Regions from separate parts of the Homo sapiens genome. Here region 2 is linked to region 1. The links come from fine-mapping of genetic effects on gene expression. Tissue or cell type: tibial artery. Region 1 holds a variant in brackets; the other region holds the start of a gene. All regions are shown on one strand. Distances are between the middles of the regions. Region 1 holds the start of SRSF4 (serine and arginine rich splicing factor 4). Region 2 holds the start of MECR (mitochondrial trans-2-enoyl-CoA reductase).

Region 1 (5,376 bases):
AAAAGTCAACAAATGGAAAAAATATTTGCAACTCATTTGACAAAGAGCTGATTTTCCTAATATATAGTGAGCACCTATGAATAAGAAAAATGGGTAAAGGATATACACAGACAGAAATAGGAAAATATATCTCAAACATATGAAGAAAGACTCATATCTCTGCAAAATATGATATTTGCAAATTAAACCACTTGGAGATAACATTTTTCACCTCTCAGATTGGCAAAGATCAAAAAGTTTGATAACACGGTGTTGATGAGGATATGAGGAAACAGCCACTTAAGGGGAATTGAGCAATAACTTATCAAAACTCTGACCCAAATATCCTATTTCTAGGAATAGATGATATATATAGAGAGAGAGAGAAAGAGAGAGAGAGAAATGCAAAGTTACTGCAGCAGTGTAATAACAAAAGGTTGGAACTTATTTCAATGTCCTTCACCAGGGCACTGGCTAAATAAATTACTGTGTATAAAATGGTATGAACCATAAAACTAGTCCTTTTATACTCTTAAGGAATGATTTTCAAAATATATTTTGTGTAGAACCATATGTATAGTATCCTACTATTTGTTTTATAAGGGTAAATTAACCTCCTAAAGGACATTTCAGAAACTGCCTCTGGGAAGAGAAACTAAGTGGCTGGTGGACAGCGAAGACTTTTCACTGTGTATCATTTGAACCTTGAGTTATCCTTTCAAAATATTCAAAAAACAAAAACAAGCAAAGAAACAAAACCCTTTATGGTTCTAGGTACATGGCGTTAGTGAGAAGGGAACCAATATTTATTGAGCTCTTACCATGTTTCAGACACTGTTCCAAGTACTTTCACATACACTACCCCATTTAGTGACCTGTGTAATCCTTGAGATGGGTATACATTATTCTAATTTTACAGGTTAGAAAATAGACTGGATAGGCCAGGCGCAGTGGCTCACGCCTGTAATCCCAGCACTTTGGGAGGCCAAGGCGGGCGGATCACCTGAGGTCTGGAGTTTGAGACCTGCCTGGCCAATATGGTGAAACTTCCTCTCTCCTAAAAATACAAAAATTAGCCGGGCGTGGGGGCGGGCGCCTGTAGTCCCAGCTACTCTGGAGGCTGAGGCAGGAGAATCGCTTGAACCCGGGAGGCGGAGGTTGCAGTGAGCTGAGGTCGCGCCACTGCACTCCAGCCTGGGCGACCGAGCGAAACTCGTCTCAAAAAAAAAAAAATAGGTTGGATTGTGGTCAAGTAATTTACTCGGCGTCATGCCTAGTCTAGCTCCAAAGCTCCAGCCTTCTCCGCTTCTCACACTGCTTCTATTTAAGCAGTGTCCTCTTAAAAATAATACTGGTCTCATTTATTGGGCACTTGATATGACAAAACTACTAAGTGCTTTATGTACGTATTCTCATATAATTCTCAAGACAACTCTGGAAGGTAGGAACTACTCTCCCCCTTTTACAGAAAAGATAAAGGAGGGTCCGAGACATCGCGCGTAACAAGCCCAAGGTCACGGGTACACAATCGTTTGGAAGCTAGGTTTGATTCCAAAGCTCCAGCTCCGAAATCCAAACCACACCCGGTTCAAAGGACAAAAGCACAAACGCTCGCTCGCTGGGCTCTAGGAGGTGCGGACACTTCCGGGGGAGGGGCGAAGCCAGCTGGCTGCGGAAGGCGGTGCAGGAACCCCTTTGGCGAGCTCGCGCGAGGACGTGCCGCAGCGCCGCCTGTCGATCACCTTGCCCCGCCGCACGTCGGCGCGCCCCCGGGCAAGCTCCTCCCCCAGTCCTGGCCGAGCGGGAAGCGAACGCGCGCTCTCTCCGGTTACCTTCCGCCTCGGGGAAGGGCGGGGGAAGTGGAAGCGCGCGCTCGCGAGCTGCGTGCTCGCGTACGTCGCCGGGGTTCGGCTGCGTCCGTCCCGCCGCCCGCCCGTTGCCGCCGCCGCCGCTGCCGCCGTGCTCTCGCTTTGCCCGCCGCCGCCTAAGGGGGGCTGGGGCCGGGGCCAGCCATCACTGCCGTTGCCGGGATGCCGCGGGTGTACATCGGCCGCCTGAGCTACCAGGCCCGGGAGCGCGATGTGGAGCGCTTCTTTAAGGGCTACGGGAAGATCCTGGAGGTGGATCTGAAGAACGGGTGAGGAGGGCGAAAGAGGGTCCGGCCGGGCGGGGACAGACCCCATAGGTGGTGGGGAGGCCGCGGGGACGGGAGAGGGACGCCTGGTCCGCGCGGAGCGGCTACCGGCCTGGCCAGGCTCCGCCATAGTGGCGGCGCCTCGGGGGCGCGGGTAGGCCCCGGTTCCCACTGCGCCTGCGCGGGTGGGGGTGGTGGAGGCATAATGGGAGCTGTGCTGAGGCCCTGAGTGGGACGGGGAGAAGGAAAGCCCGAGTGGGGCTGGTGCTCCGGGCAGGGGGGCACAGCTCCAGGGCGCCCGGGAGACCTGGGTTTTCCCTTCCTAGGCCCGGAACTGGGGCCCTATTCGTTTCTGGGTAGACACCAACCTTTCCCGCTCTGAGGACTACTGGAAATAAACAGGATTTCCTGCTCCCTTTCACCTCTTGCCCGGTCTCATGGATCAGACGGTCACAGCGCCGTCTTCCCCGAGGACTGGAGCCTTGGAGGGAGGCCCTTTTTAGCCGTGTGCCACGCTTTTTTGGGCGGGAGACTCCAGTTTGAGTAGTCTAGTGACAGTTTCGAAAGTATCGTCTTGCCGTGCTGAAAGCCTTCACCGTTCCCTCTGCAAGAGTAAATTAAAGTCTTAACTTCTTATCTTTAAGACTCCGTGCAGAGTTTCCACGCTGTGGTTTCCGTTTTCCAACTTACCGAAAAATTGCTTGGCCGTTGTAGAATTTGTTAGGAGAATAGTGGCCACCCTGGCTAGTATCTGCGTCTGGTTAACGCAGACGGAGACGAAATTGTTAACTTACTGCCTCCCCCAGAGTATGATCTATTACTTGTATTCTTAATCTACTTCGGCAAAAATAGTGCCAGCATGAGCTACAGGTTTTAGGGAAAACTGTTGAGGAATCAGGCCTGGAGAAAATACTCAACGGGGAAAACTGGGAACCAGATGTTAGGTAGGGCTTGGAAGGCATGGATATAAAATTAAAAGGACTGGGGTGACATTTTAGGGCACTAAACCTTGGGTGTTAGAGAACTCTTGGCTTAAAAAAGAAACTCTACTTTGCAACAG[T/G]TGTAATATAGCTACCGTTTACTCCCCAGGGTTATACTAGTAACTGACACCTGAAACATTTTGAAAGTTACCTAAGTATGTTTCACGTATGAGAAAACTGGTAGCTACCGTATTCTCAAATGATGATTTGGGTTTAAAAAGCCATTTCAAATTAATTATTAGAATCGTTTTCTTTCTGAGGACGTCTTTAGTAAAGTACTGATTTCTTTTACAGTAAAAGGCTTTAAAAACTACTCCTTTTCTACAGTAAAACGTTCAGTTCTTAAGGATATATTGAAGTGGCGGGTAGACGTTATTGTATACATACCATATATGTGAAAGTTGAAACTCCAGTTTTTTTCAGAGCCCAGCTAAATTGACAGCATAACTAACTTTTGTGGACAAAGTGTGGATTTTGAAGCCAGCCAGGCCTAAGTCAAATCCTGGTTCCACCACTTACTACGTATGGGCAAGTTACTTCTCTGAACCTGGTTGTTCATTCATGTGGAAAAGGAAGATTAGAGATAATAAATGTAAAGCATTTGGCTTAGGCAGTAAGTGGCAGCTATAATCAGAGGGATGAGGAAACATCTTTGCTTGTTGGTGTTTGATAACATAAAGCGTGTTTGGTGAGGTCTTTTCTAATGTTACTCAGGTGATAGTGTGCAGGAAATGACAAGACTGTTAATGGGAAACTGATTCATCAACCAAATGTATTGATAACCCATCAACAAAATGTCCACCACTGTGCTAAATGAATTGGGGGAGGAGGCAGAAAACAGTTCTGCTCTTGAATAAATTAAGCATTATGACATGTGCACTTTGAATTAAGAAATGTTTGCTTTCGCTTTAAACTCTAGTAAAACTTGGAATGATTTGCTTGAAAAGATGTGTTGAAATGGCTTTGAAGAATAGATTAGAGCTTGAAGTGAAGAAATTTAGGTTTCTGGGAATAGTATATGTCGTAGTTGGGGCTCAGGCATGGTGACTTGTGCCTGCAATCCCAGCTGAAGTGTGAAGATTACTTCAGGCCAGGAGTTTGAGACCAGCCTGACCCCATCTCTAAGAAAAAAATTTTTTTAATTAGCCACGCGTGGTGACACTCGCCTATAGTCCTAGCTACTTCAGAGGATGAGGCAGGAGGATCACTTCAGCCTAGGATTTCAAGGCTACAGTGAGCTATGATTGTGACACTGCACTCCAGTCTGGGTAACAGCAAGACCCCCATCTCTAATAAAATAAGTACAATGCTGACTTTTTTTGCTTTTTGATGAATAGGGAAAAAATATTTTTTTAATGTCATAATTGGTGTTGAAGACATGGTCCAGTAAGAAGCAATTATGAAAAATAATAAACAATCTAGCATGGATCAAGCCTTATGAAGAATCTAGAAATTTAACAACATAAACCAGAAACAACGACTATTAGATTTTACACTAAAAATTCGAAATCAATGAGTAGGAATTCAAAGGCTCTGGAAGGAAGAAGTGAGCAACCCAAAAGGAAGATGGAGCGATAAGAGGAAAGAGCCTTTCAGGACCCTAAATACCTGGGTGGTTTTTTTAAGGAACTGTTCATTCTTACAGTTATGCTGCCAAACCATGATATGCATGAAATGTCATTGAAAGTCAAGGTTGAAATGAAGTCATTTTAGAGTTTCAAAGACAGGTATGACAGTCACCAAACAGCACACAATATGACCTCCTGGCATCATTGAGGAATCATTACAGAGGAAAACGACTTCTGGGAAGAAGACCAATGGTAAAGATGTATTTCAAGCAAAAATTGCCTGTATGGCAAAAACGCTGGAGAGTCTGAAAGGAAGGAGTGAGTACAAAAGAAAAAGCATAACTTAGCTACGTATGTAAGCTTATAGTCCCCTAGCAGAAGGGCAGTGGATCTCCCTACTGGGAAGCATGTTTGAACATATCTAGATTGTGATTAGTAATTGAAACTCAGAGGCCGGGCGCGGTGGCCTGTAATCCCAGCACTTTGGGAGGCCGAGGCGGGCAGATGACGAGGTCAGGAGATCGAGACCATCCTGGTTAAGATGGTGAAACCCCGTCTCTACTAAAAATGAAAATAAAAATTAAAAAAAAGTAGCCGGGCATGGTGGCAGGCACCTGTAGTCCCAGCTACTCGAGAGGCTGAGGCAGGAGAATGGCGTGAACCTGGGAGGTGGAGCTTGCAGTGAGCCGAGATCGTGCCACTGCACTCCAGCCTG
Region 2 (5,376 bases), 50 kb before region 1:
GATACAGAGACGCTGGAGCAGAGAGGAGCCAGAGAGGCCCACCCAGAAAAGGAAACTCAAGGAGAGAAAACCAGTGAACAGAAGAAACAACCAAGGGTGCTGTTTGCAGAGGGCTCTTGAGAGAGCCTCAAAATAGGAGTTTTACCAGTGATCCCATTTTACGGGTGTGGAAACTGAGGTTCAGAGAGCATATGACACTTGCCTAAGGTGACACAGCTAGTAAATAGACGGCGGGCCCTAGATTTGAACCCAGATCTGACTGATTCCACATCCCTTTGCCCTTTGTGCAGGGGAAGATGGCAGAGACTATAATGGAGGGAGAAAGAGAACACAAGCAACAGGTAGACAGATGAGAAGAGGACTTTCTGCTTTACTTTTAAAAGACCACAAACTTCAGCCGGGCACAGTGGTTCACACCTGTAATCCCAGCATTTTGGGAGGCAGAGGCGAGGTCAGGAGTTTGAGACCAGCCTGACTAACATGGTGAAACCCTGTCTCTACTAAAAAAAAAAAAAATACAAAAATTAGCCAGACGTAGTTGCGGGCACCTGTAATCCCAGCTACTCAGGAGGCTGAGGCAGGAGAATTGCTTGAACCTGGGAGGCGGAGGTTGCAGTGAGCCAAGATCGCGCCATTGCACTCCAGCCTGGGCAACGAGCAAAACTCTGTCTCAAAAAAAAAAAAAAAAAAAAAAAAAGACCACAGACTTCTATAATCCTTGAGAGAAGAAGGAAGAAGGAAATTCCTGGCCTGGAGTGACCAGCCCAAATCTAGGGAAAAGGAGATGGCACCACAGACCGTTCTAGGCCATGAGGAAATTCAATTACCTGCAACTCATGGAATATTTATGACACCTACCCTGTGCCAGGCTCATATCGGGTGCTGGTGTTATGGAGATAAACCAAACATGGCTCCAGTCTTGCCTGGAGGGGAATAAATAAGAGACGATGTACTAAAGGCCATAACACAGCTCCAGGGAAAACACAAAGGCAGCAGCAGATGACCTAGGGAGTTTTGAAACATCAAAGAAATGACATCTGAACCTGGAGTTTCCGAGGCAGGGAACAGCATTTCAGGCAGAAGGAGTGGCCTGAATAAAGGCACAAGACACACTGGGGAAGACGGGTATCAGATGCAGCTGGATCACAGGCTATGCACGGTCCAACAGGAGAAGATGAAGCTGGAAATGCAGTGTGGGAGTCAGAGTGCAAAGAATCTTGAATGCAAGTCCAGGAAATTGGACTTGAACCCCTCAGTCAGTAGTTCTCAAACTATGCCCCTGCAAGAACCCAGATGGCCTAGACTAAAAGTGAGGGCTATTGGGATGCACAGGAGGCTAAAGTCCAGCCCCAAGGAGGAGGACTTGCTGGATGATTCTTCAGGCTTCCTGACTGGGCTCCCCAGAAATTCAGAGGAGCCAATTTGGTGAAGAAGAGAATGTCGACATCTCAATGTCACCTAGGGAGTCTTACAACAGAAGGTTACGTTGTACTTCCCAGTTCAAGTAAGCCTATGTGTCACTGGGGAAAAGGGTAAGCAGGACTGGTCATCGTGTGTGTGCTGGCACATAAATGTGGGGCCAAGCCTTTCCCCCACCATGGGACACCAACTTTCTCTAATAATAAAAACAAGTACAGACATTTAGTGAGCACATACTATAAGCCAGACCCTAGTCTGAGGGTTTTATGTGTGATATTTCTCATTTAATCACAATAACCCCCGATAATATTTATCAAATGCTTCCATGTGCCAAGCATTGTACTAAATGCTTCAAGTGGATAATATCTCACTTGACCCTCACAACAATCTTGAAACAGATAACTAGTATTCCTTCCATTTTAAGAGTAAGAAAGTGAAGACACAGAGAGGCCTGGTGACTTGTCCGAAATCAAATGGCTGGAAAATGGCAGAGCTAGGACATAAAGCCAGGTTTGTCCAAATCTAGCTCACAGTACTTTGCTGTGCTCTCTTCCTCAGAGGAAAGGCTTGGAGATGGCAAGCTTCAAGTCAATAAAATCCAGGAAAGGAACTCTTCCTTATCCTTCAAAGCCCTGGCTCAGTATCTTAAAACCTGTTTCCTGGGACACCTGCATCAGAATATTCTTGGGAGCTTGTAAGGATGTAGATTCCTGGAACCCCCATCCGCAAGATTCTAATTCAGTAGGTCTAAGATGGGACCTCGGATTATTTTTATGCACACAGAAGATTTTGAATCACAGGGCTGGCTCTAACAGCACCTCCTCCAAGAGCCCCCACCCCATCCCACCCCATCCCAGAGCACTTCTCTTCAGACTACAGCATTGCACTCTGGCACGAGCCACAGCTCGATCTGGGGTTTTAGTAATGTTCATGTCTTCCCTACACCAAAAATCAGACTAGATCCTTCATAGGGCTACACCTTTTTACAGGCATTTCCAGTGTTCCACTTAATCCCTTTCTACACTGTGAGCATTTTGAGAGAGGACCCTTCTCCTTGTGATTCCTGTCTTACATCTGAACAGAGTTTTTTACAATGCGTTCTCCCACCCACAATAGCATTCCTCTATTATTTCATCCAATCCTCACAACAATCCGGAAGGAGGCATATTATCCCCATTGTACCGATGAGAAAAATTCAGAGTTTCACCTGCCCAAGGTGGCCAAGCTAGGAAGTGGCAGGGCTAGGATTTGAACCTAAGTTTTCTAACTCCAAGCCCCATACTCCTGCCTCCACAGCAGCTTTCGTGTACTCTCCTCAGTGTAGGGAAGTAAGCTTTGCCTCCCTATGCCGTTACATGGTAGTGGTGATTAAATGAGATAATACCTTAAAGAGCCTGGCTCGGTGAGCACTCAATATATTATGTGAAGGGTAAACTGAGGCCAGGGAGAGTAAATATTTCCTCCAAATCAAACACCAAACTGCAGGCTGTAGACACGACTTTGGACTAGCCCCAGACTCTCCTTGTTGAGACAACAGCTTTGGCGGCCTCGCAAGCTCCGCACCCCCGGATCCCTCCGGGGCCCACACGCAGTCTAGCCAGGCGCCACCACTTGGGCAGCGAAGGAAGGAAACGCCCTTCAAAGGGACCAAGGGGGAGTGGTCACCCGGCGGGGCAGGGGCGGGGCGCAGGCGCGCGGTCGCTGGAAGATGACGTAGCCGGGGCGTCAGGCTCTGTGTTGGTTGGAGCGAGCATGTGGGTCTGCAGTACCCTGTGGCGGGTGCGAACCCCCGCCCGGCAGTGGCGGGGGCTGCTCCCAGCTTCTGGCTGTCACGGACCTGCCGCCTCCTCCTACTCCGCATCCGCCGAGCCTGCCCGGGTCCGGGCGCTTGTCTATGGGCACCACGGGGATCCAGCCAAGGTCGTCGAGTAAGAGACGGCGCCGAAGCCGGGGAAGGGGACTGGGGTTTCTGGAAGGCTTTAACACGAGCTGCGGACTGGGAAGAGAGGGACAGGGTCCGAGGAAGGGGGCAGAGAATAGCAAACCGAAGCCGAAGCCCAGGGCGTTTTTGGTAGGTCAGAAAGACCGTACTTGAAGGTAGCTGAAGACCCGAGAGGCAATTATCAGGGTATTAATGGCTGATGTTTATTGATCGAATATTGTGTCAGGCAATCCCTTGTTTAAATGGATGCTCTCATTTAATTGTCACAACAATGTTTTGGGGTAGTTATTGATTTATCCCCATTTTGCAGATGAAAACTGAGGCAGAAGAGGTAAAATCACTCGTCCAAGGTCACACAGCCAGTAAGTGACAGGGTCAGAATTCCAACCTATGTCTGACTGACCTGCGTGAGTTCTTACTATTATTATTATTATTTGGAAGAAGTTTTCAGAATACTTTTACATCCATTTGGATCTTCATGTGTCAGTAAAGAGTAGGTCATAGATCATTGTTTCCAGAGGGCAAGGGACTTGCCCAGAGTGATACCGCTAATAAGTGATTGGAACAGGAGACTGGAATCCATGGCTTCTGATTCCAAACTCATGTTTCTCTCCACTGCACCGTATATGCATCTTGGCTTGGTTAAAAAGAGCTGCTTTGGTGCCATACAGACCCAAGTATCTATATTTGGTCAAATACAGGCTCAACGTCTTAGTAGCTGTTTGGTCTTAGAGAAGTCATTCAACTTCTCGTTACTTTTATGACTTTGTCCTCCTCCTAAAATTCTGTTGGATCTTAATTCATGCTTTTTGCACGTGGTTGATAAAAATAGTATGTCAGTTGCCAACCATTGTAAATCTGCACATAAATAGCCATTCAGAAGGGCTATTGGGGCCACTGAAGTGGAGCTAAAGCAAAAGCACAGGTCTGGGAATCAAAATACTTGGGGTCAAATCCTTGTCCTAGCTTTGCATTTGGCAAGTTACTGAGGTTCTCTGAGCCTCGGTTTCATCATCTTAAAAAATGGAGACAGTACAGACAAAGTTCATAGTGGTAATCACCTAAGATCTATGTAGTGCTCTCCACCAAAAAACACCTGCATACTCTTGTGCAGTACCTTCTTTTTAACTCTTTGATTCCCAGCAAATAGTTTGATTATTTTCCAAAGGATGGGCAAATGTGGTATTACTTTAATGGTTAAAATTCAGGCTAGAGCTGGGCACGGTGGCTCACGCCTGTAATCCCAGCATTAGGGAGACTGAGGCGGGTGGATCACCTGAGGTCACGAGTTCTAGACCAGCCTGGCCAACGTGGCGAAACCCCATCTCTACTAAAAATACAAAAAAATTAGCCGGGCTTGGTGGTGGGCACCTGTAATCCCTGCTACTCAGGAGGCTGAGGCAGGAGAACCGCTTGAACCCAGGAGGCGGAGGTTGCAGTGAGTCGAGATTGCGCCACTGCACTCCAGCCTGGGCAACAGAGCGAGACTCTGTCTCAAAAAAAAAAAAAAATCAAGCTAGATGTTTTGACAGGTGGTGAGGATAAGCCTCAGATAAATTCAAGGTCATCCAATCAGCCTAGCCACATCCCGCATTATAGAAACGAAAAGAATGTCAAGAAGACACATCAGTCAGTAAACTCCAAATTGTATGTTGATCGTAGGTAATAAAGCATTGTGTCAGGGAAGACATCTCACTAAGGACTGCGTTGTAAGGAACTGGTACAGCTCTGATGAACACTCCTCCATTTCCAGGAATGTACCCCAAATGAGAACCATGTAGTGTCTCTCCCACGGACTTGTAGTTTGTGTCTGCAGCAGGACCTGCCACAAAACAGGTGCTCCTAAAATGTTAGTTCAATCTAAATCTAAATTTCCAAAAAAAGTGAACCTTTTATTAAGTTCTGCTGTGGTGATGAGGAAGGCCTGGGAAAGTTCAGCTGAATGCAGTTGCCTCCTAATTGATTCCCTCCTCTTGGAGAGCCAGAGAAGCTGGAACAGACCGGTCTGTTTGCAG

What was found. PIP is the estimated chance that this variant, and not a neighbour inherited with it, causes the effect.
Region 2: it holds the start of MECR, and the variant in region 1 is fine-mapped to the expression of MECR in tibial artery (GTEx, PIP 0.99).

Annotation. Positions count from the first base shown.
Region 1 is chr1:29,178,386-29,183,761 of GRCh38, reverse strand. It overlaps SRSF4 (serine and arginine rich splicing factor 4), which reads left to right and starts at 1,862. Exons shown (of 6, transcript NM_005626.5): 1 at 1,862-2,116. The coding sequence starts at 2,010. It also overlaps a transcript of MECR not described here. RefSeq lists enhancers at 534-1,171, 1,514-1,743, 1,172-1,809, 5,328-5,376 and silencers at 1,814-2,023, 2,074-2,263. The variant T/G (reference allele first, on the strand shown) is at 3,174.
Region 2 is chr1:29,228,702-29,234,077 of GRCh38, reverse strand. It overlaps MECR (mitochondrial trans-2-enoyl-CoA reductase), which reads left to right and starts at 3,144. Exons shown (of 10, transcript NM_016011.5): 1 at 3,144-3,347. The coding sequence starts at 3,172. RefSeq lists enhancers at 3,133-3,242, 2,767-3,267, 3,268-3,768.